Linked DNA regions of Homo sapiens. The protein of the gene in region 1 purifies or fractionates together with the protein of each later gene. This does not show direct contact. Each region holds a gene or a part of one and is shown on either strand. Other genes may lie near its edges.

The links. The genes of interacting proteins can lie anywhere in the genome.
Region 2: the proteins of MAML2 (region 1) and RBPJ purify together in Homo sapiens (affinity purification with western blotting; one study listed by BioGRID and IntAct). This does not show direct contact.

Annotation. Positions count from the first base shown.
Region 1 is NC_000011.10:96,091,660-96,095,312, forward strand, and holds part of MAML2 (mastermind-like protein 2), read right to left. Parts: intron 1,859-3,653; coding exon 233-1,858; intron 1-232. UniProt on the Homo sapiens protein: Acts as a transcriptional coactivator for NOTCH proteins. Has been shown to amplify NOTCH-induced transcription of HES1. Potentiates activation by NOTCH3 and NOTCH4 more efficiently than MAML1 or MAML3.
Region 2 is NC_000004.12:26,422,007-26,425,659, reverse strand, and holds part of RBPJ (recombining binding protein suppressor of hairless), read right to left. Parts: intron 1,319-3,653; coding exon 1,181-1,318; intron 1,030-1,180; coding exon 917-1,029; intron 1-916. UniProt on the Homo sapiens protein: Transcriptional regulator that plays a central role in Notch signaling, a signaling pathway involved in cell-cell communication that regulates a broad spectrum of cell-fate determinations.

The DNA.
Region 1 (3,653 bases):
CTTTGATCATTACAGATCACAATGATACTAATGCTCTACAGGGAAGTACTAGTCCTTGCCTCTAGATGCCCTCAACGAACCAGGCTTTATGAGGTCTTCATATGACTCCATCAAGACCACTACTGTCTTTGGTCTTGATCTTGTCCCAATACAAACATAATGGTAACCACAGCATAAAGATCAAGCTAAATGGTCTCTGGGAACTCTGTATTTGGAGTAGTAGAGCCCTTACCTGTCTCTGTTGTTGGGAGACTTGGTATCCCATTCCTGCAATGGGCTGATTCTGCATTTGCTGAAGTAGGAGCTTTTGCTGAAGTGGCAAAGGTGACCTTAGCAAAGGCTGGCTTGGTAGAGATTGGGCAGGCTGAGAAGATGGTTGTTGCTGCTGCTGCTGCTGCTGTTGTTGCTGTTGTTGTTGCTGCTGCTGCTGCTGTTGTTGCTGCTGCTGCTGCTGTTGGGCTGAAATTGAGCTCTGCTGCTGTTGCTGTTGTTGAGCTGAAATTGAACTCTGCTGTTGCTGTTGCTGTTGCTGTTGCTGCTGCTGCTGCTGTTGCTGCTGCTGCTGCTGCTGCTGCTGCTGCTGCTGCTGCTGTTGCTGCTGTTGCTGTTGGGTGTAGTGTAGGAGAGAAGGCTTGTTCTGGGAAGGCAAAACAGAAGGCATCTGCTGGTTCGCTTGATCTGAGTTAAAATGAAACAAAGGCTTGGTGTTGCCCTGACGGGGCTCCATGGCTGGGTGCGGGTTGTTAATAAAACTTCGACTGAGATCCTGAGGCTTTTGCTGCATGAGGACATCTAGGTGCCCACCCTGGGCTGAGGGGCCGGCCTTGTACATGTAGTTAGCCATTACTTTCGACTGGCCGCTGCCGCCAGCTACCCCAGGCATGGGGGAGCTCTGTGGGCTGAATGTCTGCTGACCAAAAGAAGGGCTGGGGATTTTCTCCTGCCCAAATGGACCTGGTGATGGTCCAGCAGAAGAGGGCAAGGCTGACCAGTTGGTAGGCTGGTGCTGCTGCTGGTGCTGCTGCATCCGGGCATGCTGCTGACGATTAGCAGCTATCTGTTTGAGCTGCTGGGCATGGGATACTTCCTGCCAGCTTGGCAAGGCCCGGCTTGCTCCGGAGCCTGTCTGAGGCTGAGCCTGGCTCTGAGGGACTGAAGGGATTGGAGACGAAGTGGAGAGGGCAGAGTTGGCCATGGAGAATGCGGGGCCAGCTGATGGGGGCCTCAGCTGAGGAGAGCCTGAGGGGCCCTGAGTCAAGCCCGGTGAGTATTCACTTTTGATCACTATTTTCTCCATGGGTAAGGAGGGCCTAGGTGTGCTCCTCTGGCTTTGCTGACCCAAGTCAATGTTAAATGGGTCATCCTGCTTTATGGTGGCATTGATCATGTTCTCCAGTTCAAGGTCACTCATGGGAGGCACAGATATGTTGGTCAGTTCATTGAACAGTTCCTGCAGCTCAGGATCCATCAGTTGTTCTCCAGGGTCGTCTCCGTACCTATTAGGAAAAATATTCTCTTGGGTCATTTGGCCATCCATGTGCTTACTGCAAGACAGAGTCTCTCCTGGCTCCTTCTTTACCTCCTTTAAGCCCATGTTAAACAGGCCATTGCCAGGAGAATGTGTATGGGATGGCAGAGTGTTAGTCTTTCGCAGGGGTGCTTGGCTCATAGGCAAGGTCCCTGACATAATCTGACTTTGTCCATTGTTTATTTGGAGGCCACCTTGTCCTGCAGAGAGATTCTCCCCAACACGAATTCTTTTGATATCAAGAAATGAGTTGTCCACAAAGCCATTGGGTCGCTTGCTGTTGGCAGGAGATAGGTTAACTACCTGTTTTCTTTTCAAGGAACCCTGGAGCTGAAAGACAGAAGGGAATAAAAAGGAAAAATAAGAAATATGAATCCAATGATGCTTCTCATAAAAAGTGATGTGATATTTAAATGTTTCTTCTATTTACACACAAGATTCAGTTTTTTAAAAAAATGGCACAGAGAGAGCACAAATGAAGCACAATCTGGATTATAATAAAACTCTCAGTAGCACAAACACAACAAAATAAAATATTTCTGGAGGAGCAGATCAATTAGGTTAGAGATCAGTGGTTCCCATGAGTGGTTCATAGGTCAATGGATACAGATTCCTTCAAATATCATAAGAAGTTATTCACAGTACCTAAGATTAAAGCATTGTTATTTTCTGGAGCAAGCCAAAATATTCCACATGCATGCACACACAACTCCTCGCAGCTACAGATGATCAGAGTGTGCACAATTTTAAGCAAGATAGAAAACACTCACAAGTCTAAAGCTGGGAACAAATCTCTAGTTTCTTTTTTTTTTCACAGACCCAACCCCTTCATCACTATTATCCTCTAAGTAAGTAATTAGAATAGTTCTCAGGCCTAAGGAGATATGCTATTATTGTTCATCTACTTTTCTTCCTATAATTCCACTGCTTTGCATCCAAGCCTATGTAGCAACCTTATGTGGACACACAAAAGTCATGAGATGATCATTCCTCATATGAGATACTTTAAGCACTGATTTTCCTGGGAATTCATTTCTTCTGTTTCCTGTAACTAAATCTCGTTACCAAAACGAAAGTGTTAATTGCTTAGGCTCTGGAAGCAGACAAAACTGAGCTCAAGTGCCAATTCTGTCACTGGGTGCTATGTGACCTCAGCAACTTACCTGAGCCTCAATTTTCTCATCTAGAAAATGGGGACAATAGCACTTAACTCACAGGAAGGGATGAGATAATGCATATAAAAGTTTAGAAAGTGCCTGTTACAGTAACAACTCAATAAACAACAATTTGTAGAAAAAGTATGGCTTACTACATGCTGAAAGGGGAGCTTGTCTAAACAGCAACATGTTTAAGTTTTTTTGTGACTGTTAAAGTACTTCATTCACAAACTAGCAATCAGATTATACTTTATGAGCCTTAAAATTTACAGAGAAAGTCTTAAGGGCCATATAAGCACACTAATACATTAAAAAAGAAACATAAAGCATTCATCATTCGTCCTCATATCCTTGTTGATTTGTCTCTGAAGTGAGAGACCATATCTACCAAAGTGTGGCTTTCCCAGTGCTGCAGACCCACTGAAATTATTCAATGTTTTCTCAGCATAACTGTAAAATACACGAGGCAAGAAAACATTTCCTAGATAGAAAATTCTATCACTTCTCCTATCTTCTCTTCTCACTTATGGCTGCTCTCTCACCTGCCTGAAGATTTCTAGGTAGACTAATCAAGAAAAGGAAATTAACATAACTGAGTATATATTACATATCAAACACTTGAATATGGTTACTTTATTTCCCTTAATCTGCACAACAATCCCATTAGAAAGGTATTATTACCCTTAATTTATAAATAAGGAAAGCAATACTCAGAGAGACTAAGTAACTTGCCCAGGGTCACACAGCTAGCAAGTGGGCTTTAACTCAAAGTTTGTGTGGTTCTAAAGCATATGTCATTTACACTCTAACATGCTCTAATTAGTTTGTTCAGGGCTAGGATCAACCTAGTATAAAGGGGCCAGGGGCAGTAACTACAGAGACATCCTAGATTTCAGGTAAAATGATGAGGAATATGGGAATGGCCAGGATGCAGTATAGAGCTGAGTGGGAAAAATCTGCTTTTTGTC
Region 2 (3,653 bases), on another chromosome or scaffold:
ACTAACAAAAGTAGTTTTTACAATTTCAAGATCTCCTTTTCTGTGGTTGTTGAGATAGGATCTCATTCTGTTGCCCAGGCTAAAGTCCAGTGGTACGATCACCGCTCATTGCAGCCTTGACCTCCCGAGCTCAAGTGATCCTCCCACTTAAGCTTGAGACTACAGGTGTGCACCACCATGCCTGGCTAATTTTTTTTTTGGGGGGGCGGGGTCAGTGGTAAAGACGGTCTGACCATGTTGCCAGGACTAGTCTCGAACTCCTGAGCTCAAGTGATGCCAGGGCTAGTCACTTCTCCTTCTCCTGCCTTCACCTGTTGAAGTGCTGGGATTGCAGGTGTGAGTCACCATGCGTGGCCGAGTTTCAATGTCTTCTATTGAACAAAAGCCCTAAATCCTATGCCCTGCTCCCAGTTAGAAATACCAATTTTATTTCAGTTTTAATAAATCTATCTTCTTGTGAGAGAGTAAGCTAACAAAAATTACGCTTATATTTCAAAAGAAATAAGAATGTCTTCTGTTTGCAAACTTGGTCCTACATTGGGATATGGCAGGTACCACAAAAAAATGAATACGGTTTATCCGCATTAGTAAAGAAAAGAAATGTAATTTATAGTGCCCTCTACTGAACATCTTCAGATAAACAGCCAAAAAGGAAATTGCCACCAAAATATATTGGAAATCATTTAAGAAAAAATCATTAAGAATGTACTTGTAAAAACTGGCTATTACCTTAAAGCATTTCTGAAATAAGGTAGAGCATAACTGTCAATTATAAACAGCACTGATTACTAACATACCTTTTAAAATTAAAAAGCATAAAACTGAGGTGTGTTTTTCCATTTGAATGTTGTGATTTTCCTGTTTAAGAAATTAATTTTTACTTCACATTATCACTAAAGCAAAAGTAGAGCCATACCAATCTTGGGAGTGCCATGCCAGTAACTGAGCACACAAGTTTGACTGTTTGTCCATAATGGATGTAGCCATCTCGGACTGTGAATTCTTCTCCTTCTGATTCATCATCATCCACTGCAGTAGGTGGAAAAATAAATCAAATTGTCATCTTTTTAAATTTATTTTATGATTAGGCAAATGACAAAACTTAATATATCCATGTATCTCATCAAAAGATTTTAACAATTTCACACTAAAAACATTAAATGCACACTTTTATACTCACAGAGATGAATAAAAAAGGCTCCCCACTGCTGTGAACTGGCATGAAAATTACCTCCTTCTACATGCAAGTATCTGGTACTAACTGTCTGGGATCGTAGTCGATTAAACAGAGCCACCTTTGTTCCTGAGGCAATGCATACTGCAAAGAAAAAACAGCTCTTATTTATGTGATTGGAGCAGAAGGTGGGGAGGGAGCAAAAGAAGGAAATTCTGCTTGGCAGTGTATAATTATTCTTTCTTATCATTTAACAGTTTGACAAATATTTTCACTTTCCAAGACAGTACAGATGATATCAAAAAGTCAAGGTAACTGTTATTAATAATGTCAAGCTAATGATATCAAATGTCCATAAAAATAATTTTAAAGTGAAAGCTACACAGTATGTTTAATGTGGTGCTGATTATTAGAGAAAAACTTACTTTTAAAATAATGTTAGACAGTAGAAATTTAAATGATGACCTATTGAAAGGATGTGTATCTAAACACACTGATAAGAAAATATTTTCCTGGAATATCACTGAATGGAAAAGCAGACTATAAAATACTCTGTATGCTGTGGTTCCATTAGGCAAATGTATATATTTTTAATATGTGTTTGCATCCAATTCCACAGAATACATGCATAGAAAAGGGACCAGAAGGATGTTTGTCAGAGTTGATGGTAAATGCCTCTGCATACTGTGATTTCAGAAAATTCTGCTTTCTTCTAAATAAAGTATTGTATGAAATTTCTTGAAAATAAATCCATGTAAGCAGAAAAACATTCTGAAAGTGAAATATGTTCTCTGCCATCAAGAAACTAATATTCAGTACAAACACAAAGTTAAAGCAGTTACATAAAACTGTGTAATCTGAAATGCAAATAGCCTGAATACAAGACATAATATACCTCCTAGTGCAAGAGAGCACACCACCACCTTTGAAGCAGGTCTTGCTTTTCAGAAAGAAAACAAGAACCAAAGGACAACAAACTTAAATCTGATCACCATTCTACACTAAAGATTCTCTCCTTGACCATACTTTTAAGCAGGCTGCTCTGAGCAATCAACTAGTATTTGTCCTTGAGCCCCGTCATCAGTCTGTTTAGCTCAGTTATATATAGTAAGAATCCTCCTAAACTATCTCCCACTCTGGATCTATGATCACCTTGGCCTGCCTTTAGCAGGAATCCTAAGTCAGGTCAGAAAGAAACCTTCTACCTTTGATGTCTCCTTTTAGAAAGTTTCCATCCATTGACCCTCTCACTCTGCTTCATCCCCAAGTGTCTTTGTTGTATTCTGAAATGGAACTTGGTTCTATTTTCCCCTATTGCAATAGTACTGAATGAAATCTGTCTTTCCAACTAGGCCCACGCTCTATTTCTTTTTGACTCTACCAATTTACAGAAAATACATTAAACTATACCAAATAAATGAAATCAGCAAAATCTAGTACGTGGAAATCTCTAGTGACTAAATGTTTCAACTTACTTAAATAAATTGCAAGAGTTGAGGGGGTGTCCATAGATTATACTCAAGGACATATCACAATATAAACTGTACTAAGTGGTAGATCTGAATTTTGATTCAAGCAATCTGATTTTTAAAATATTTTAGACCATTTTAAATTTGAACACTGATTGGATATGCATCAAACTAAAATAAGGGCAGAAGAAAGTGGGGCTGGAGTACAGGTATAGATGAAGATAAGATTGGTTGAATGTTAAGATCACTGTTGACGTTAGAGAATGAACATAAGAGGTTTCACTGTATGGTGCAACTCTGTCTACTTGAGAGTGTTTGAAATTTTTCCGTAATAAAAACTAAGTGATATTAGTGGACTGAGTGGACTAAAATATAACCAATACAAAACAACAACAATAACAACAACCACAACAAAAACCATGATCTCATAATAAAACAAAATGAAAAGAAAGCAAACAAAACAAAAACCCTAAAACCCCACTGGTCACTTTCAAGGAATGTTATTATTCTGCAAATGAGTAAACAAGCACCTAATCCTGCCTTTTCATTACATATTACAATTGAAGCAAATAGCTGATATGGCAAAGTCCCTCTTTGTAGAAAAAACTCCAGCTAACGAATGCAGAAGTTAGAATTTAAAAAATTAGAATATCACCATTTTGCAGCATTTAATGAAATGGATTTAAACATCATCAATGACTATTAAAACCATTAGGTTAAAGTTTGCTGAGGAACTTTATGGGTGGAATAGACTTACAACAGCTGAACTACTATAATCAATCTCAACATGACCAAAAAAAAAAAAGGGGATAATCAGATATTATGACTTCCAATCCAATGGAAATAAATGTATATCTTACCAATCAGTTCTGAAAGTCTTTATGTCTAACCACCAGTTCATGGAAAGTAAGAGAGACAGAGAAACATATAATCAGCCAAACCCAGAATATGGAATTCCACAACAGGAAAAATGATCCAGTTTCTTCAACAAATAAATGACATAGAAGGAA